Linked DNA regions of Homo sapiens: region 1 is linked to region 2. Evidence: fine-mapped expression QTL. Tissue or cell type: pancreas. Region 2 holds a variant in brackets; the other region holds the start of a gene. All regions are shown on one strand. Distances are between the middles of the regions.

Evidence for each region. PIP is the estimated chance that this variant, and not a neighbour inherited with it, causes the effect.
Region 1: it holds the start of ATP10B, and the variant in region 2 is fine-mapped to the expression of ATP10B in pancreas (GTEx, PIP above 0.99). The same link has a PIP of 0.9 or more in nasal epithelium.

Annotation. Positions count from the first base shown.
Region 1 is chr5:160,846,494-160,857,637 of GRCh38, forward strand. It overlaps ATP10B (ATPase phospholipid transporting 10B (putative)), which reads right to left and starts at 5,718. Exons shown (of 26, transcript NM_025153.3): 1 at 5,448-5,718.
Region 2 is chr5:160,679,877-160,691,020 of GRCh38, forward strand. It overlaps ATP10B (ATPase phospholipid transporting 10B (putative)), which reads right to left. Exons shown (of 26, transcript NM_025153.3): 4 at 8,884-9,067; 5 at 7,924-8,218; 6 at 6,203-6,397. The coding sequence starts at 8,198. Among named protein-coding and RNA genes, the nearest start is that of ATP10B, 170 kb to the right of the region's middle. The variant G/T (reference allele first, on the strand shown) is at 5,610.

The DNA of each region.
Region 1 (11,144 bases), 170 kb after region 2:
GTTCACCCAGCTTCTGATCGCCAAGCTAGTAGTTTTTACTCTATAATGCCACCTGTATTCCTTAATGAGTGAGGGTTTGGGATAAAATCAATATTATGATTGCTGCTATTAGCAGTAGTAGCAACTGTAGCTACTACTAATACATATCCAGCGCTTAGTAGGTACCACCACAAAAAATTGCTATTTTTATGTCAAAAATGGTCAAGTATTTATAATTTCACATGGTTCAACTCATATGAAATGCTGATAACAATGTCAAGTGTTTTTAAGCCTTAAAGAAGGAGCATCTGCAGCCAGACTTTTTGGGTTCCCATGTTGGCTCTGTCTCTTCCTGCCACATTGTGGCTGGCAAGTTAATTACATTTTCTCTGGTATAAGTTCCTACATCCACAACATGGAGCTAATAATAGTAACTATCTCAGAGATTTATTGAGGCTTAAATGATCCTATGCGGTTGAAGCCCTTGAAATAGCAACTGGCAGATAGTAAGTACTCAGTTAATGTTAGATGTTCTGGCTACTTCCAATATTACCTCTTCGATTAATTCTCAGGACAATCTTGTGAGGTAGAAACATTTTATCCTCAGTTTATAGATAAGGAGACTGGAGCTCAAAGAGAGTAATTTGAACTGTTGTCTGCATGATTGCAAGCACATTCTCTCTGTCTTACATGCTAATTTTCAGTTCAGTGCCTGTTAAATCAAGTCTAATAGTTCCTGGGGCATTTCATCAGAATTGCCAATATTTGAGTGTATCTAGCTTCTGGGATTCTATAATAGTCAGTTATGTAAAAGACAATGCAAGCTATTTTATCGTCTAAGGAAGAGAAGCAAGTTTCGCCATTTCTCTGTTTTTAGGTCTCCAGATTCACAAGCATATTGTAAGCAATAAATAAGCTGATAACAGCTTCTGATTTTATAACAGTACAGCCTTGCGGTGACCCCTTATGTATTGCTGCTACTTCCCAAAGAACCCCCAAACCTCAGTTAGAACTGTCCCCTGGATTACTGAGAGGGAAAACTCCATGTGGCACCTGCTAACAAGAACCTGTGCTGTTAAACTTGGTTAGTGTTTTATACAAGACCAAAGAAACACTGTCTTCTCTTTTTCTCCTTAAACAGAATAAGTAGTCGAGAAATTCCTTTGAGAAGCAACAAGATTTGATTGAATTTTTCAGAATTTCTTATTATTGTGTCAAGTTCACTTGACAGCAAAGGACAAACTGCCTTTCAAATGCTATAAATGAATGCATCAGCAATTCAGAAGGAAAAACGCGGGTTATTAAGTAGGAACAAGTCTCTCTGAATATATTTACACCAGCTCATGGAAACCATTGTCCTCAGAAACCTCTGCAAAAATCTATTTTCTAGTGTCGGTATTGCTTTAAGTTTGACAGATGATGGTAAAATACAATGAAATTACCTTTGAGCTCTGATATGTATATCAGCGCCCACATCTCTCACAATTTGATTTTTTATTTTTCCAACACAGCCATCTATTTTCAATATTATCCCTGCACACTCCAGGTTTATGCCTGGGGAAAATAACTATTTATGCCTAAGTCATACTTATATGCAGAATTTACACTATATGTAAACATACACACATACAATACACATGTGTAAATACATATTAGTTAAGAGCTGGAAGGAACCTTTCAGATCTTCAAGTCTTTACTGTCACATTACAAATGAAGAATCTGAAGCCCCAACAGAAATGCTATTGAGAAGGCCACACAGAAACCTGACTTCAAAGTGAGATTTGAGAGAATAAGGATGTAGCAAGTTCCTACTATGTTCTGAGGGTTACAGGAGGCATATTCCATTCATAAGTTCTTATACCATTTCTATGATGTTGGTATCACTCCCATTTGATAGATGAGAAAATTGAGGCTTACAAAAGTAGCACAGCTAAGAAAATAGCACAGCTAATAAATGGCACAAATGAAATTAAAGCACTGATGTAACTAGGTTCTTTCTAGCATACCAGCATTTCTCTAAATACATTCACTGCCATATCACTGACATAATTTTGCTAATCCACGTGCCAACTGTATTTTAACTTTTTTGATTAATTAATGTAAACATTTATAAAGGAAAAGTTTATCACCATTTAAATAGCATGCCATAAAGAGAAGAAAACTATTGCTGAGTTTTAGCTGGACCCTGCTGCTACCTAAAGACATCAAAATTGCATCCAGCTCTCTTTGTTGAAATGGGAGATTAGCAATGGGTAGAGAGGTATTAAAGGTCTAGTCATACCAAAATGAGACTTAATGATGGAAAGAGAGTTGAGAGGGAAAACTTTTACTATGTGATCTAGCTATTTGATATAATACGTGAGTATCACCTAAAGTCATCTTTGTCCTACCTAAGATCATTTTTGGTTCTATCATGGTACCTGTTCTTCACTTTGAGAAACACTGCAGTACATATAGTAACTGGGCATGTTCTCCAGGTCATGGTTCTGGAACTCCATCAGAATCACCTGAAGGCCTATTTAAAACAGATTTCTGAGTGATCCCGAGTTTCTGACTCAGCATGTCTGCGGCAGGGCCTGAGGTTTTGCCCTTCTAATAGTTCCCGAGTAATTCTGATACAGCCGGCCCAGGAAGCATATTTGGGAACCACTGCTCTAGGTTGTACTTGGGGAGGAGGAGGTAGAGAACATACGGTAGCATGTGTGTGAAGATTTCACCATCAATCTTGCTTGTGAGTGGAGGGATCTGGAATTTTTAATTAAGCAGATGAGGCAAAGAAACAATGTATTCTTGTGTTCCTGTGTCACTTCTTCAACTTAATGAGTTCAGATTGATACTGCACCATACCAGAGCGACCTGCAAAAACTTTATCTAAGAGACAAAAGTACCTCCTCTCAAATAATACAAGTTGTTTTCAGGCTGCTAACTATCTGCAAGGCTCCCTGCATTGGCAACAGCAGCCAGTGATCACTAATAACGAAAGCAGAAAATGAGATTCTCCTTCTTTTCTCCAGACGTTTAAGACAGTACTTAATAAACAAAAAATGCCATATCCATTAATATTCTTTCTCATCTGGTTCTCTTAGTAGTAACTAGCAATTATTAAGTGCCTTCTGTGGGCCAATTATTGAATTGTACTGGCAATTACACACACACACACACACACACACTCTTTTAATGTGAGCATTTGACAGGCGCAGTAACTTGCCAAGGTTACACAATTATAGGAAGCAGAACTGTAATTCATATGCAAGTTTTATTCCAAAGCCCGTTTTTTTTCTACTAAACAATACCCACTCCTATTCTGACTACCCAACTTCATCTCTTAATAAAAGGGTATTTTATAAAAAATGAAAAGAAGAAAAGGCTCCAGAAACTTAAACTTTGTAGTTAAAAGAATTGTAAAACAATGTCACCAGAAAATGAGAAATCAGTGACATTTAATCAGCAGAAAAGCTAGAACTCCCTAGGTTCAAAGCAAAATTTAAGAATGCCTGGCTAAGTTTTACTTTAAGGAGAGTGGGTAAATGGGTAGAATCAGTCTCAGGAATCCAACGAGTTTTAGTTTACTTTTGAGTCACAAAAGAAATTTTCATTCCCTTCTGACATGGCAGAAGCTGTTTGAAGAATGAAAGTGGTAGTAGAAGCAACACTGGGCCAGGTGCGGTGCTTACGCTTGTAATCCCAGCACTTTGGGAGGCTGTGGGCGGATCACCTGAGGTCAGGAGTTCGAGACCAGCCTGGCCAACATGGTGAAACTCCGTCTCTACTAAAAAACAAAAAACAAAAAACAAAACAAAAATTAGCCAGGCATGGTGGTGCATGCCTGTAATCCTAGCTACTTGGGAGGCTGAGATGGGAGAATTGCTTGAATCCAGGAGGCAGAGGTTGCATTGAGCTGAGATTGCGCCACTGCACGCCAGCCTGGGTGACAGAGCAAGACTCCATCTCAAAACAAAACAAAATAAACAAGAAGAAGCAACACTGGATTGAGAGCTCTGAGCCTTGGACTCTGGTGTCCTTTTCTCTCAGTAATTCAGACTTCATTTCTCTAGGTCCTAGTTTTATCATCTGTAAACTAGGCAGCTAGACTAAGTTCCATTCCATTCCTCAGAGCTCCGTTCCTTTGAAAGGCAGCCTCCTTCACTGGACTTATCAGTATCACATGCTTCAAAAGATAAGGCTCATCGTTTAGCACGAGAGGAGTATGATTTAACTGTAAAAAGTCAGCATGTGGGTTTCAACCTTCAGTTTCTCAAGAGCCTATTAATCCACCCATATGTGATGTTATACTGCTATACTCTTTAAAAAATACATGATGAAAACCTGAGGAGAGATCCTGAACCCTTAAATCCATATAATTAGGCTGTAAGAAATGAATTTTCCAAGAATTTTTTAAAAAGTCATCAATGGATGAAATGACAAACTCAGTGGGTGTTATTAAGAGTAATTATAGTAACATCTAGACAGAAAACAACATCTGTGATCTGCCTGATTAATGGCTTAATGTAACTGTATGTCTGTTAATGGAATAATACTCCAAGCAGTCTTGACTGTACATTTGCAAGATCTGGAAACAGAGAAGAAACTGTGGAAGAAGGAAGTAGCAGAGTGCCAGATTGGCTTTGGGAGGTCAAGCTCCTCTCTACAGTTTTCAAATTCTCCTCTGCCTACCTGGCAAATTCAGAGAAAATTGCCTGGCAAATTCAGAGAAAAACCAAGTTCCACCAGACACAGGCATGCACTCCTGTAGGCAAAATAACTAGCAGCTCAGTATAATTTTTATTTTTAACATTACTTTTCACCTTAGGGTTAGGGATAGTGTCACTCCAGCCTTAATAGCAGGCCACAGGACTGTCCTAAATGTATTCATCACAGACCTGCATGCATGGGGCTTTTTTATTTTTTTTCTGGAAGGAGTAACTCATACTTAGGGAAAAAACACATTTTTCTTTAAGCAACAGTTTTCTCCTTTGAACTCAAAGGAAAGTCAAGCTTCCCACCTATAGTTGAAAACTACTGCAATATGGCAGCTTCAGAGTTTATCAAGATGAAATTGGGAAGCCATGTAATGATCTCATTCTCTTCCTCAAAGCTATAGTTTCTTTCTGCTTTGAGAAGAAGGCTGTAACTCCATCTGCTTCCTCAGGCTGCACTGGATGAATGCAGGATAGCAGGATATATTATTTATCATAAAATGTATTCAGGCACATTCAGACTGCAAGCCCTGTTGAGTGAGGAAGTAGCATTTGCCATCAGCTTATCATAATGAAATCAATTGACGAAAAATAAAACATTCTGTTAGAAAAGAAATGTGGATCTCGCACCCAGAAAGCCAAATGAAATTTCAAATGCAGTGTAAAGAAAAGTAGTCATATCCTGGGCCTAATTCAGAACTTAGACTTGATGATTCTAAGAGGCAATTACTCCCCCATTATATAGGTTAAGGCCAGGATGCTTTTACTTACCCCAGCAAAGCTGACGTCCCTATTGAGCAGACTCCAGTAGAAGAAAACAGTGCTTGAAAGTGGCGGTATTTCTCTCGCACACCTTGGCTAAAATAGTTCTCTTTCCTATGGAATTTTTCATTTTTCTGATTATATCTGATTATGTCAAGGCAAGGCCTCAAGCTAACACTCCCTCAGAAACTTAGAGAAGATGACACACTGAAAAGAAATAACTGTGACCAATGAAAGAAAAAGGAAAAATAAGCTGCCTCGCTAGGCCCAAGAGTGAAAGAGAAGAATAGCAAGTCTGTGAATGTGAGGCCGAGTCCCAGAACAGTGAAGGCAGTGTTCTTCGACTTGGCTGAACATTTACATTGTTAGACATGGTTCTTGCATAAATTTCTACTTCCTGTGAATCAATGAGCCAGCAATATCAAAATTCATGGTGATTTTTATTCTCTACGCATGGTACAAAATGACTTTGTCCATCTACCTTTGGTAATGCATGTAATTAAGTGTGAGACAATTATAACCTTGCAGTTCTCTTTGGGGGGCCTGAAATATGATTCAGCTGCTGGGTTTCAAGGGCACTTAAGAAAGAAAAGACTCTCTACAGTGACTTTTATATGCATGCTGATGATGAATTTGCCCTCAAAGCTTCAGAAGTCTCATTTTGCAGTAGTCATAGTTTTTATTGATTACTGTTTGATTATACAAAATAAGGAAAGTGGGACCAATATATTATAGTGGCAGATTATGTGAATGGTGCAAACTTACAGAAAATCAGAATTAGTAATGGGCTTATTGATAGCTTCGATTCATACCCTAAAATGAGATTTTCATGTATAATCCTTTTATTAAGTTACCTACAACTCAACTAATTGGCATAAATGTCATGAGCAAGTTGCTGTATTGATGGATAATTATTGATGGGTCCATAAATAAAAGAGAAGGTAGAATGAGCAGTAAGTTGATTTTAAGGGTAGTAAAAAAAAGAAATATTACCAAACTTAGGAATAAAAGGTGTTGGAAAGAAGTGAACATACTAACTTCATGAAAATCTTTACATAAGATTTTGGTTGGTTGGTAGAGTAATTGTGAACTTTGTATGTACCTACAGATCTTATCAGAATACCAAGAAGAAACATGGACATAGGAAACATTTTACAAGAGAAGAAACACCCACACCATCTAAAATCTGCATCGCTGTGTGTGTAAGACACAAGCTAGGAATTTTTAAGAACATGAAATTTGCCTATGCTTTAGACAGTCTAGAATTTTTAAAAGAGCGAGTTGGCATTTCAAAATTCTCCATCTGCTAAAGAGAAGAATGCTTAAGTCCCTGTTCCTTTACTTCCCTTCACTCAGAGTGCTCTGGCTTCTAGGGACGAGTGTGGTCTAGAATCACAGATACGGTTAAATTGCAGAATATTGCACTAGTGGGTAACTGGAGGTTATTTAGTGAAGCCCCCTTGTGCCATGGAGGAGAATGCTGAAGCTCAGAGAAGTGAATACAATTGCTCAAAGCCAAACAGGAATTTGGTGGTGAACATGGGACCTCAAACCACATTGTCTTTCTCCTAAGACTAGTATATTTTCCATCACTGGTCTTTCTCCTAAGACCAGCTCTTTCCCATTATCACTTTCCTGGTAAAGAGAGAGGCACATGCAATTTAGGAACAAATGTGTCTGTAGCATCCCTTGGGTTTTCATGCTAACCAATGAATAGAGAGTCCTCAAATATGTTCATTTTCCAAACTGCCTGGAAATCGTAAATACTAACAGACATATGGCAAATTATTTATAAAATGTGTTGAAATTAAGTGACACTGTCTGGCTAATTAGAACCCTAATAAACAAATAATAGATAAGAAATGCTATGTTCAGTTTTTATTAGAGGGACTATCTTTCTTTTGTTTGGCTGCTGGAATTTTGTAATAAATCATATTTTAAAAATCACACTCACAGAGTTTTACTTATAGTTCCTATTTCCAGCAGGCAATCTTTCTACACTAAGGCAATTTAGCATTTTTGTATGTATTTGCATTTCTTATTGACCACATCATGCTTTTCATTCCTGATTTTTACACAGTGTGTCATGTCTAGCTTTTGTATTCTTGCTGCCCAAACTAGTCAATTAAAGAAGCAATGGTAGACAGAGGCTTTTGCTCCCATCCCCGACACCAGTACCACACAACCAGGATGGATTTCATAATCTTAAGACTATCTTCTACAAGCTGTGCAAGTGTTATTAGTGGTAATTTTTATTTTTTATTATACTTTAAAGTTCTGGGATACACATGCAGAACATGCAGGTTACATAGGTATACACGTGCCATGGTGGTTTGCTGCACCCATCAACCCGTCACCTACATTTGGCATTTCTCCTAATGCTATCCCTTCCCCTAGCCCCCCAACCCCTGACAGGCCCCAGTGTGTGATGTTTCTTCCCTGTGTCCATGTGTTCTCATTGTTCAACTCCCACTTATGAGAACATGTGGTGTTTGGTTTTCTGTTCCTGTGTTAGTTTGCTAAAAATGATGGCTTCCAGCTTCATCCATGTCCCTGCAAAGGACATGAACTCATCCTTTTTTATGGCTGCATAGTATTCCATGGTGTGTATGTGCTACATTTTCTTTATCCAGTCTATCATTGATGGGCATTTAGGTTGGTTCCAAGTCTTTGCTATTGTGAACAGTGCTGTAATAAACATACCTGTGCATGTGTCTTTATAGTAGAATGACTTATAGGGTATATACCCAGTAATGGGATTGCTGGGTCAAATTGTATTTATGGTTCTAGATCCTTGAAGAATCTCCGCACTGTCTTCTACAATGGTTGAACTAATTTACACTCCCTATTGGTGCTAATTTTTACTGAGTACTTTGTGCCAGCACCATGTTAAGTGCTCTACATACTTTGACTCATTTAATTCCCTCAAAAACTTTAATAGATTGACGCAATTATTCTTATTCTACGAGAGAGAAAATGTAGGAAAAGGAATAAAATAACTGTGCTTTCACATAACTAGGAAGTATCTGGGACTCAAACTACAGATTGTTTAACCATTCACCTTTGAAGGACATCTGAGTTATTTCCAGCTCTGTTATAAAGTTGCTATAAACATTTGTGCACAGGTTTTGTGTGAATAGAAGTATTTTTCTAGAATAAATGCACAGACAGAAGTTTAATTCCTGGATTGTATGGTATGTTTAGTATTTTAATAAATGCTTGTTTAGTATTTTAATCCTAGATGTATTTGCACGTTTAGTATTTTAAGAAACTGCGATATTCTTCCAGAGTGACTATACCATTTTACTTTCTTACCAGAAATGTGTGAGGGCCCTAGTTTCTCCGCATCCTCACCAGCATTTGGTGTTGTCACTACTCTTTAGTTATTTCAATAGGTGTATAGCAATATCTCATTTTGGTTTTAATTTGCATTTTCCTAATGGATAATGATGTTGAGTATCTTTTTATGTGCTTATTTCTCAGTTATATATTTTGTTTGGTGAAATATTTCTTAATGTCTTTTGCTTATGTTTTAATTAATTTTTGTTTGTTTTTTTTTTAGTTTTGAGTGTTCTTTATATACTATACCTTTGTCGGATATGTGGTTGGGAAATGTTTTCTTTCAATCCATAACTTATCTTTTTATCCCCTTCACAGGGTATTACACAGATCAAAAGGTTTATTTACATCAATTTTTAAAGCAATATTGAATCAATTTTCCTTTTCACTCTTTGCATACTTCTAAATCTTAAATATTTATCCTATTTCTCTAAAAATTTTATAATTTTATGAATTACATTTAAGTCTATGATCCATTTTGAGTTAAATTTTGTGTAAACTGTAATGTTAAGATCAAGGTTTCCTTGTGTGTTTATTTGGATTTTCAATTGTACTAGAACCACTTGTTTTATGACTGTCCTTCCTCCATTGAATTGTTCTTGTAACTTTGTAAAAAAAAAAATTAGTTGCATATTTGTGTGGATCTATTTCTGGATTCTGGATTCTTCTCCATTGTTTATACCCCTGCCAGTACCAGTCTTGATGACTATAATCATATAAATCTTAAAATCAGGTAGATAGATTCCTTCCACTTTATTTTTTTTCAAAATTGTTTTAACTATTCTTGGTTTCATGCTTTTTCATATAAATTGTATAATAATCTTGTCTGTACCTAGAAAAAACTTTTTGGATTTTGATAGTGATTGTATTAAATTCATATACTAATTTGGGAAAAATGGACATCTTTACTATTTGAATAGTCCAATCAATGGACATAGTGTGTCTCTTCATCTATGTAGGTCCTCTTTCATTTATGTTATCAACATCGTGTAGTTTTTAGCATATGAGTCCTGTACACATTTTGCTTGCTGCACATATGTTCTGGCTGGTATACCAAAATAGAATAAATTTCTGTATGTTTATCTTGTATTCTGCAATTTTGGTGACTTGCTCATTAGTTCTAGGAGTATATTGTAGATTCCTTGGATTTTCTACAAAGACAATCATGTCACCTGCAAATAGAAACGGTATTATTTCTTCCTTTCTAATATGTATGCCTATTATTTTATTTTCTTGCCTTATTGCACTCACTGAAACTTTTAAGGCTATGTTGAATAAAAGTGATGAGAGTGAACATCATTGTCTTGTTCTCAGTCTCAGGGGGAAAATATTAAGTCTGTCACTAATAAGTATAATGTTAGCTGTATATTGTATGTAGATGATTTGAGTTGTATGTAGATGATTTGTATGTAGATTTGTATGTAGATGATTTGAGTTGAGGGAGTTCTCTTGTATTTCTATTTTACTGAGATATTTTTTATCGTGAATGGATTTTGAATTAGTTTTTTCCTGCATTAATTCCATTTGAATTTAATTAATGCATTAATTGATATGATCATGTAATTTTTCTGCTTTAGCTAGTTAATGTGGTCTATTACATTAATTGATTTTCAGATCTTGACCTAGCTTTGCATACCTGAAATAGACTCCATTTGGCCATCATGTATAATTTTTTAATTGATGAATTTTGTTTTCTAATATTTTGTTAATAACTTTTGCATTTATATTCATGAAGGCTTTGGGTCTATAATTTTTTATACTGTTTTTCCTGGTTTTGATATCAGGGTAATACCAGCTTCATAAAACAATTTGAGATATAACCTATTCTACTTTATCTTCTGGAAAATATTTACAGAATTTGAATTAATTTTTCTTTAAACAAATTGTAGGATTCCCCAGTGAAATCATCTGGGTCTGGAAATGTCTTTTTTGGAAGTTTTAAAATAACAAATTCAGTTTCCTTAACAGATATAGAGCTATTGGAAGTATCTATTTTGCATTCAGTGAGTTTTGGTAGTTTGTATTTTTTTTTTTAAGGAATTGGTCCATTTTGTCTAGAGTTGTCTATATTATTTTCTTATTATCCCTTGATTCTGCTGTGTCAGTGGTGATATCCATTTCATTTTTGATATCGGTAATTTTTGTCTATTCTCTTGTCAGTCTTGCTGGAGGTCTATTAATTCTATTTGTTGATCTTTTAAAAGAACCAGCTCTTTGCTTTGTTGATTTTCTTGTTTTCAATTTTAGGGATTTCTGTTTTTTAATTTATTTCCTTGTGTTTGCTTTGGGATATTTTTATCTTCTTTTTCTATATTTCTGAGATGGAAGCTTAGATTATTAGAGAAAATTTTCTCTTTTCTAGCATAG
Region 2 (11,144 bases):
GAAAAATACAAATCTGTGGCTGGTATGGTTTCTAGATTCATTAAACTGAGCCCTGGGAGAAGCTAAACTAATACAATTCTGAAGCTAATCTCTCCTCGAAGTCATTCCATAAATCTGATTAATGGGTCACCTTTAGACCACAAACACGGTTGCTATATTAAAAGAAAATGCTCTAACGGGATTGTAATTCTGTCAACAAGGCTTCTGCTGTTTGTAAAAAGACATTTCCTCACAGTATAAACAAGTCTAGGGTGGATGATGCATGGGCTTAGGTCATGAGCAAAATTCCAAGGGCTCTAGTATTCAATTGCACAAAAATGAAAAAAAAAAGCATCAGTTGCTCAAATGTGTAAATTTGAGGTGAAATAAATAAAATGGATAGGGCTAGGGCATGAGATGTAATTTCTTATGTTGCTTCCCAGAAAAAAAAAAATTGTCCTCTTAAATCTTGTATTCTTTTCCTGACATCTGTCATGTGTCCTTGATATGGCAAAAGGATATGTCTTTTAGCATCCATCAGTTAAGATAATAACTAACACTTATCTATTTAATAGCATGTCTTAGCTTCCTCTGTTGGGGTCTTTCATAGAATCAATCCACTTCAGAGGTGGAAAAACTTTAGGGACATATAGTATAGAATGTCCCAAGATGTGTATATTCCTGCTAATACGTGGAAAGCAATTTACAAAGAGTCAAGTCTCAAAAATATTTTAAAGTGATAGTGTTGAGGACATTGAGGTGGCTTCTCCAACATCTGTTCCTCATTCTGCTGGAAACTATCTTATTTTTAAAAAAACTTTGGCTTTTACATCTTCCTGGAATGGCCCATAGGCTTTCAGGGAAGCTGACTTCATGCTGGGCTCTGTGGGTGGGGACTGTGGCTCAGGTATAACCTAGTTAGTACAATCCCATCTCTTGCCCCTAGGGATTGGTTTAGGGATGAACAAGTGAGGCCACTGAGATGTGAGGAGGCTCTAGGGAGTAGTAAGCTTCCTTGACCTTCCAAGATGGCTACCAGAAGTGTCTTTCTTTCTCTTTTCATACATGATCACATGTAGATGTGAGGGCTGGAGCTGCTGCAGCCATTTCGTTGCCATGAGAGAAGTCTCCCTGAGAGTTAAGATGACACTGAGGAGGGCTGAATGAAAAGGATTGGTGAGAGCTGGATCTAGGACGCTGATTGAACCATGCTGATCACCCTCCTACCTCAGGACACTTGTAATGACTTAAGCCAAGGAAGTCTCTTCGTTGTTTAAACCTGTTAAAATGGAAGTTTCTCCTACTTGTGGCAAAGAACATCTCAACTGACAGCTGGGTTAAACAAAGCTGATAGGCTACTTACTGAGGGTCATCCTAGAACCTTTATTCTATTAATGTGTAAATTTATTTGGCTATGGGTTCTGTTCTTCCTCAGTCCATCTCACAGGACAAGATCTAGTCTGACTCCCAAATTTCACAAAAGTGGAAACTGAGGTCTATATGTTTAAATGACTTTCCTAAGCTATTAATAGTTAGTCTGAGATCTGGGCCTAGACTACAGGCCTCTGCCTCCCAGGCCTGCATTCTTACCTCAAGGTCATACCCTCTCTCTGTCCCTTGAGGATGAACTTCAAAAGAAGAACCTAGGGCCAGAAGTGATGGCATGCCTGCAATCCCACCTACTTGGGAGTTTGAAGAGGACAGCTCAAGCCAAGTTCTAGACCAGCCTGGGCAACGTACCAAGACCCCTGCCCCCACTGCCCACCTCAAAAAAGCATCAACAAAAAAAGAAACTTATTATTCTTTTGCAGAGACTCCAGATTTCTAGAATATTTTGAAGCAAAGTTTGCAAGTTTTTGGGCTCATAAGCAAAATAGAACTTTAGGTTTCAAAAAAATAGGTCTGAAGTGTTTGAAAAAATTACATCAGTTACAAAATAATATAAAATCAGTTAAAAGTCAGGTTATTTCAAATAAAAATATTAATTTTTAGCTGCCCTAATAAAGCTCAGACAATCTGGCAACAACACTAGGCCTGTACTTCTACATAATAACAATTAGCAGAAGCTAAGTGACCAGCTCTGCCTCCTAGGATAAATGCATGGCCTCCCCACTTTGCCATAGTCACCACCATTCCCTATTGCCTCCTAACACTGATGCCAACTGTCATTGGCCATTTATCAGTCCATGAGTAATACTGCTTTTTATAAACTATTCAGTCCATTTAATTACCTATCTGGTCCCTGTAGCCAATTATTTTTGTATACTTGAAAAAGTAAAAATTCCCAAACTTAGATATTAAAAAATATTTCCAAAGCCCAGTAAATGTAAAGCAACACTGAGTTAATCAAAGATGAACAGGTTTCTTTGCTGTGTCTTTTCTTAGTCCTTCATGGGCTATGGGTCCATTGGAGGAGGGCCAGCATATATAATTTGGCCATGCACGTATTTTTTCGGAGACTATTTCTTTGTCACTGTTATTCCACTGAATACACTTTGGGAAATACTGCTATGAAAACTCCATGCTCCTCCCTGCCAGTGAGCTGGTGGACTAATGTTTCTTTTTTCTAGATTGTTATCATCTTGGTTTTCCGATGTTCCCTGGAAGCTATTTTGGAAACAACAACAGCAGCCTGGCCTAGGTCCTGCCAGCTCCCAGCACAGATGAGTCTGTGGTCTAATCCACACTGAGATTATTCCCAAGAACCAGGCCATGATTCTGCGATATTCTGGCAGAGCGAGGAGAACAGGACCAGGCTCACTGCAGCCCACGTGCATTCCTCCCTGAGGCACCAGCTTCCTGGCTTGCCACTGTGTATATTCCATGGAAAAAAAACAAGACAGTAAGGTGGAAAACAAAAAGTGACGGTGGATTGGTGCCAAAAGAAAAACGATGCTTTCTCGGCCGGGCGCGGTGGCTCACGCCTGTAATCCCAGCACTTTGGGAGGCCGAGGCGGGCGGATCACGAAGTCAGGAGATTGAGACCATCCTGGCTAACATGGTGAAACCCCGTCTCTACTAAAAATACAAAAAATTAGCCAGGCGTGATGGCGGGCACCTGTAGTCCCAGCTACTCGGGAGGCTGAGGCAGGAGAATGGCATGAACCCGGGAGGTGGAGCTTGCAGTGAGCTGTGATGGCGCCACTGCACTCCAGCCTGGGCGACAGACCAAGACTCTGTCCCCCAAAAAAAAAAAAAAAAAAAAAAAAGAAGAAGAAGAAAAGAAAAAAAAGAAAAACAATGCTTTCTCAAACACCGCTTTTTCAAAGGAAGGCATCACACCCCAGCAGTGATTTCATCCTCTCTTTATAATTTTCATATTCAAAGGCGAGGAACGACTAAATGTTAACTCTGGCTGTCCAGTGTGCTCATAACATTCAAGACAATTGGATCTAGCTGGAAAAAAAAATTATCCTTCAGATTAATTTTTCTAAACGTGCAACTGTGTCCCTCCAAGCAAAGAGACAAGAAGCTCATTTGCTGCTGAGGGATGAACATGGAGTTTCTTGCAGGGGTTCTTGGATGATATTGGTAAATACCATCTAAAGTCATTGTATTAGATACTCATCTTGGAGGTTTCCCCTGGCTACAATTTTCCAAGTGGAGTTTGACTCATAAATCCTTTCAGCAGCCAGCTCTAAGCTGGCCACCTTTCACTCCCCTGGAGAAGAGAACCCCTCCTTAGAAGTAAGCAGTGCCTAAATGGCTGGAGTACATACCTCGAAGCAAGCCTCTTTCATTCTAACAAGGACCAGAGCCAGTGCGGAATGTCTGCTGAACTGGGCTGGAGAGTCAAAAGGAATGAGATGGCCTAGGGTGCTGCTTGTGAGACATGGATGTTTTCCTTCTTCAGCAAGAAGTCAAGCTCTTACCTGCTAGAGACTCCATCATCTTAGGCTGCCAACTGCTAGCTCTGAAGGTGCTTTGTCCCTCTAGTCTCTCTGTGAGCCCAGACTCAACTCCCTTGCTTCTTTTAGGACTATGTGGGTTATCACAAAGTTGAGACACACTCTAACTCTGTCTTCTTTCCTTGCCAAGTGAGAGCATGTCCTATCCTGACAACCTAGTTTAGTCATTTGCTCAATGAAACCTTTGTAGAACAATGACATGTATAAAATGACATTAAATAAATGTCTAATGACATCAGATAGTCCAGTCATCCTAGAGTTTAATTCTTCAGATTTCAACTCACCCTAAAAAATATTGCATCTCTGTGCTTAATAATATGAGCACTTACACAAGTTAAAACAAGGTTTCTCAGCTTCAGGACAGGTGGTGTGCAGTCTTTGCTTTGGTTAAGACAACATCAGGGAGAACTCCCAAAAACAGAGTTAGTGATGAAGGAAACGTTGGGTTTGACATTCTAAAAATAATGCAATTTCAGCTTGCATTTACTGAGCATTTGTTGTATGTCATACACTGTGCTAAGTATTTTCTAAGAATTATCTCCTGCAACTCTCACAACCACCTCAGGAATTGTTCAAATTTTAGGAATTACAAAATGAATTTCAGAGGTTATATTGCTTGTCTAAAGTCAGGCAGTTAGTAAGTACTGGAGGCTGTTCAACTCAGGCAGTGTGTCTCCTGTTGTGCTTCTCCTAACACAATACTCCATTGCTCCCCCAAATACAGTGATGCCTCTTCCCTCCCAGTGTCCTCAACCAGCCTTAAATGTGCTCATGGCCACACTGGGTTAAGAGGAGATGAGAATATATGCAAAACTGTTAAATGTTAGACACATTTGAAATAGTGAAGAAAATGCTACATGATAAAGACCTCCTAATTTTAAAAGACTGACTCAATCCTCCTTTTTTCTGGATTGTAGACTATAAAGCTCACTGTAGAGAACTGAACAGCTTCCCTGAAATAAAATAATGATATCTCCCTACTCCATCCCTTCTACAAACAGTAACTGCAGTGATAGCAGCCACAAAAAGATCAGGCTGGGCCCAAGACTTCCCCAGAGTTTTTTGCTTTACCTGCTGTAGATGAGGCACTCTCGGTTATTGATGACTTTATCCGATTTGTACCTCCGGAGGTCTTCCCAAGCGTCCTTGATGGCAGTGACTGCCAGGATAACACAGATTGGTATCATGCTCACCTCAGGCTGGAAAGCATTGACCACAGGGATAAAATTCAGAACCGCAATGCCCACAAAATAGAGATTGGCAAACCGGTGTAGCTGCTCAAAAATGTTTTTGGGGACGAAGGACAACACGGTGTACTTGCTGGTCTTGATTTGATTCCCACGATGATGTCTGTTGGGGTTCTCTTTGTGAGACCATCCTTCAAAGAGCAAGTTAGAGACCACTACTCGCTTCTTGTCTTCTTTTCTTTTCCACCTTTTCCTCCCTTCCTTTTTCATCTCTGCTCAATGTTGTCTTTTTAATTCTCATAATTTAATTTTCATCTTTTACTTGCCTTCTTTGCTGAAAATTTTTCTCTCTTCTTTCAGAAGGATACTAAAAATGAAAAGCCAGGCTGCAAACCCCAGGGGAGAAACATGACAAGGAAAGAGCCTGCAGAGAACAGGTGTGTATCCACCAGGCCACTTCCTTCTACTTGTTTGAGACTCCACCTGTTGGAATGTAGACGTCACCTACAGGTGTCTTCCTTTTCCACCCTGGGCA[G/T]CCAAGAACAGGTGTACCAACTCTGGGTCCTAAAACCTACCTGGTTCTAAAAGCAAGAATTTTCAACCCAAGCAACTGAGGCTTTAAAATGGCAGACATTTTCTTGGTTTGGGAGACACTGCCTGACATCCTCCAAAGAGTTTCTCCTGAACTTAGTCTCCCAAGATAATCCAGCCATCCTAGAGTTTAATTCTTAAGCTTTCAACTCACCTTTAATAATACTGCATCTGTGTGCTTAATAATATGAGTGCTTATACAACTTAAACAAGTTTTCTCAGCCTCAGCACTATTGACATTTTGACTGGTTAATAATTGTTCCCCGGTGGTGTCCTGTGTATCGTAGGCTATTTAGCAGAACCCCCGGATTTTACCCACTAGATGTCAGTAGTACCCCCTACTCCCAGTATGACAACCAAAAATGTCTTCAGACATTACTAAATGCCCACTAGGGGTCGAAATCACCCCCCCTTGAGAATCAGTGAATTAAATAATTTAGGAAAATAAAATCGAAGAAAAGAGACTCATCCTGAGGCTATGCTGATGAGTTTGCCTAACCCATTTGCAAGAGAGAACACAGGGATGGTTTTTCTTACCTTTCATAAATTCGAATGTTGGAGCAGTTTATTGCTTTATCAAAGCGGTGTCTCTTGAAGTCCTCCATGCCATCCTTGATCATGATGACGAACAGGACAATGGCCAATGGTAACATGGTGATTTCTCTGTGGAAGACTTCCATGGAGGGCATCCAGTTCAAAATCACCAGGAACAGGAAATAGAGGTTAGCCCATCTGGAGGGGCAAGCGAAGTGTGAATAAACACTATGGAGAAGAAAAATGTACTTTCTCCCCCATTTCTTCCCTACTGTTTGGCCTTGATCAATTAAACCTTCTCTTTCAGTATCACCTCAAACATTATGGTAATGGATTTGAAGCCAAACCCATCTAGATGTATTTATTATTTCCATAGATTATTGGGGAACAGGTGGTGTTTGGTTACATGAGTAAGTTCTTTAGTGGTGATTTGTGAGATTTTGGTGCATCCATCACCCGAGCAGTATACTCTGCACCCAATTTGTAGTCTTTTATTCCTCTCCCCTTCTCACCCTTTCCCCCTAAGTCCCCAAAGTTTGTTTTGTCATGCTTATGGATGAGACTGGAGATGATTATTCTCAGGAATGGAAAACCATCTAGATTTAAATTCTGTTCCTGTTATTTACTCGTTGTGTGATTTTTTTGAGCTTATTTCCTCTTGCACAAAATGGGGATAGTATTATGGACTTTAAAGGGGTCCCATAAATATTACATGATTTATAATATTTGCATGATATACAGCAGAGGGCTCTGGAGCATAGCAGTTGCTCAGTAAATGGTCACTTATAATAATAATTACAATATTGAGGGTGATATATAAGCACATATTTTAACTTTTAATTTAAAATGATCTCATACATTATCTCAAAAGAGTTGCTGATGTTTTCAAGTTTTCCACGTGCATCTTGCTCTCTCTTGCCACAGTGCCTTTGCATGTACAGGTCTGTCTGCAGGAACATTCTGCTGACTTCTGTCCATCCCTTTTCACTCAGGTAATGCAGTCTCTCTTTCATGTTGTACTTCAATTCCCTGACTTTCTTAACTAGGCCAAGATTTCCTTATTATTCACTATAATAGCACCATATACCTCTCCTTAGAAGTATCTATTGTAGTTACAACTTTATATCAATTTATATAATTAAAAAACTAATGTCTGTCTCTTTTACTAGACAATATATTCAATAAGGACAGTATCTCTCTGCCTCTCCATTTTTTTTATGTATCTCTAGCTCCCAGCTTATGGCCTGAGACAGCATAGAACCTGACAAATATTTGTTGAATGAAAGAATGAATGAAAAAACTTCTTAAGACAAATGCATTTGGATATTAAAGGAAAGGTGGCCCCCAGAGGGTAGCATCTCTGAGTTTATCTAAGTGGTAAATACTTGTTTAAAATATGTATTGGTGGCCGGGTGTGGTGGCTCACTCCTGTAATCCCATCTCTTTGGGAGGTTGAGGCAGGCGGATCACTGGAGCCCAGGAGTTAGAGACCAGCTTGGGCAACGTGGCAAAACCCCATATCTACATAAAAGTACAAAAATTTGCCGGGCATGGTGGTGCACGCCTGTGGTCCCAGCTATTTGGGAGGCTGAGGTGGGAGATTCCCTTGAACCCAGGAGGTGAAGGTTGCAGTGAGCCGAGATTGCACGACTATACTCCAGCCTGGGGAACAGAATGAGACTCTTTCTCTAAAAAGAGTATTGTTCAGACAAGTGGATCTCTACCTATGAAATTGCTCAAAGAGATTCCGGGGCAGGAAGGTGAAGAGGGTGTATTTGGTTGTGCAGGTTCTGTTGCCAGGGTATCTCCTGGAGACCTCTTCCCAATCTTGATGGAATATGCTGTTGTTGGGGAACACGACCCGCTGCTGTGTCAAGTTGTAGCTCTGTCTCCCTTTCTCTGGAGAGAGCAGCGGTGTGGTTTCCGATGGACAATGGGGGAAGCCATCTCTGACTCTCCACTGCCACCGATGCCACGATGAGTCCACTGAGAGGGCCATTTCCAGCAGCAGGCGAAGATCTGAAAACAGACACAGGAGGAGCTATGTTTAGGAGAAACGTGCAGCATGTTGGCCTGTTCATTTCTCCCCCATCCATGCAGGGTAGACACTGAAAGTAGTCTTAACCCACACTTTGACCTACTTCCTTGTAACTAAAGGTCACTAGATCCTGACCATTTGCTTCCCTGTTGTTCCTAAAGATAGGATTTCTGACATTAGAGTCATAAGGATTTTGTTTAAGATTGAGTATCTGAGGTTAGAATCCCTATGTTCTAGGGTGACACACTAAACAAATAATCACATAAATAACATGCTCCTAACACTGGAATACGTGCCATGGGAGCATTGAAGTGGGTGGGACGTGCTTTTGGCCTAATTGGGGCTGTCAGGGATAGCTAAAGTGTGGCTTGCTGGGCTATGACCCTGCAGGTCAGAAGACTAGCTCTGGTTCAGTCCTAGTGGGGAGCTGTTCCTTCACCTTCAACTGATCTCCAGCTTCCTCACTGTGAAATCAGGAACACTATTCTTTCTATACTTATTCCACAAGATTTTTGTGAGGAACAAATTGGATAGTACAGAAAAATATATTGGGACACATCTTAAAACAAAGGAAAAGGTACCTATTCTTTAGGTTTTCTTTGGCGCTAACATTTTCTGATTCTGATGACATTTTCCAGAAACTCACCTGTGGCCGGAACCTCAAAGGAGAGTGATAAGTAGAATAGATGGGAGAGGTTCTTTCCTAGGAAATTTGTCCATGAGGTGACTGGGCTGTGCTACTGTCCAGTCAGCTGGCTTTTCTTAATCTAGATGGCTGGAGTTGGGGATAGGGGATCCCTTTTCTTTTTCTCCACTCCATTTGGTGGTTTCTGAAACCAAGTACTTGATTAAGCAGATGGTCTGCCCAGGTGGCAAAGAAATGCTGCTTTACAGCACATCAAAAAGCTTGTCCACCACCATCGAGTCAGCTTCATCCCTGGGATGCAAGGCTGGTTCAACATACACAAATCAATAAACGTAATTCATCACATAAACAGACACCATGACAAAAACCATATGATTACCTCAATAGATGCAGAAAAGGCCTTTGATAAAATTCAACACCCTTCATGCTAAAAACTCTCAATAAACTAGGTATTGATGGAAAGTATCTCGAAATAATAAGAGCCATTTATTACAAACCCACAACCAATATCATACTGAATGGAAAAAGCTGGAAGCATTCCCTTTGGAAACCAGCACAAGACAAGGATGCCCTCTCTTACCACTCCTGTTCAACATAGTGTTGGAAATTCTGTCCAGGGCAATCAGGCAAGAGAAAGAAATAAAGGTATTCGAATAGGAAGAGAGAGAGTCAAATGGTCTATGTTTGCAGATGACATGATTGTATATTTAGAAAACCCCATATTCTCAGCCCCAAATCTCCCTAAGCTGATAAGCAACTTCAGCAAAATCTCAGGATACAAAATCAATGTGCAAAAATCACAAGCATTCCTACATAGCAATAATAGACAAACAGAGAGCCAAATCATGAGTGAACTCCCCTTCACAAATGCTACAAAGAGAATAAAATACCTAGGAATACAACTTACAAGGGATGTGAGGGACCACTTCAAAGAGAACTACAAACCACTGGTCACACAAATGGAAAAACATTCCATGATCATGGATAGGAAAAATCAATATCGTGAAAATGGCCATACTGCCCAAAGTAATTTATAGATTCAATGCTATACCCATCAAGCTACCATTGACTTTCTTCACAGAATTTGAAAAAACTACTTTAAATTTCATATGTAACCAAAAAAGAGCCCATATAGCCAAGGCAATCCTAAGCAAAAAAAGCAAAGCTGGAGGCATCATGCTACCTGACTTCAAACTATACTACAAGGCTACAGTAACCAAAACAGCATGATACTGGTACCAAAACAGAGATATAGACCAATGGAACAGAACAGAGGACTCAGAAATAATGCCACACATCTACAACCATCTGATCTTTGACAAACCTGACAAAAACGAGCAATGGGGAAAGGATTCCTTATTTAATAAATGGTGCTGGGAAAGCTGACTAGCCATATGCAGAAACTGAAACTGGACACCTTCCTTACACATTATACAAAAATTAACTCAAGATGGATTAAAGATTTAAAGGTAAGACCCAAAACCATAAAAACCCTAGAAGAAAACCTAGGCAAAACCATTCAGGACATAGGCATGGGCAAAGACTTCATGACTAAAACACCAAAAGCAATGGCAACAAAAGCCAAAATTGACAAATGGGATCTAATTAAACTAAAGAGCTTCTGCACAGCAAAAGAAACTATCATCAGGGTGAACAGGAAACCTACAGAATGGGAGAAAATTTTTGCAATCTATGCATCTGACAAAGGGCTAATATCCAGAATCTACAAAGAATTTAAACAAATTTCCAAGAAAAAACCAACAATCCCATCAAAAAGTGGGCAAAGGACATGAACAGACACTTCTCAAAAGACGACATTTATGTGGCCAACAAACATATGAAAAAAAGGTCATCATCACTAGTTGTTAGAGAAATGCAAATCAAAACCACAATGAGATACCATCTCAAGCCAGTTAGAATGGTGATCATTAAAAAGTCAGGAAACAACAGATACTGGAGAGGATATGGAGTAATAAGAATGCTTTTACACTGTTGGTGGGAGTGTAAATTAGTTCAATCATTGTGGAAGAGAGTGTGGTGATTTCTCAAGGATCTAGAACCAGAAGAACCATTTGACCCAGCAATCCCATTACTGGGGATATACCCAAAGGATTATAAATCATTCTTCTACAAAGACACATGCACACGTATCTTTATTGCAGCACTCTTCACAATAGCAAAGACTTGGAACCAACCCAAATGCCCATTAATGATAGACTGGATAAAGAAAATGTGGCACATACATAGCATGGAATATTAGG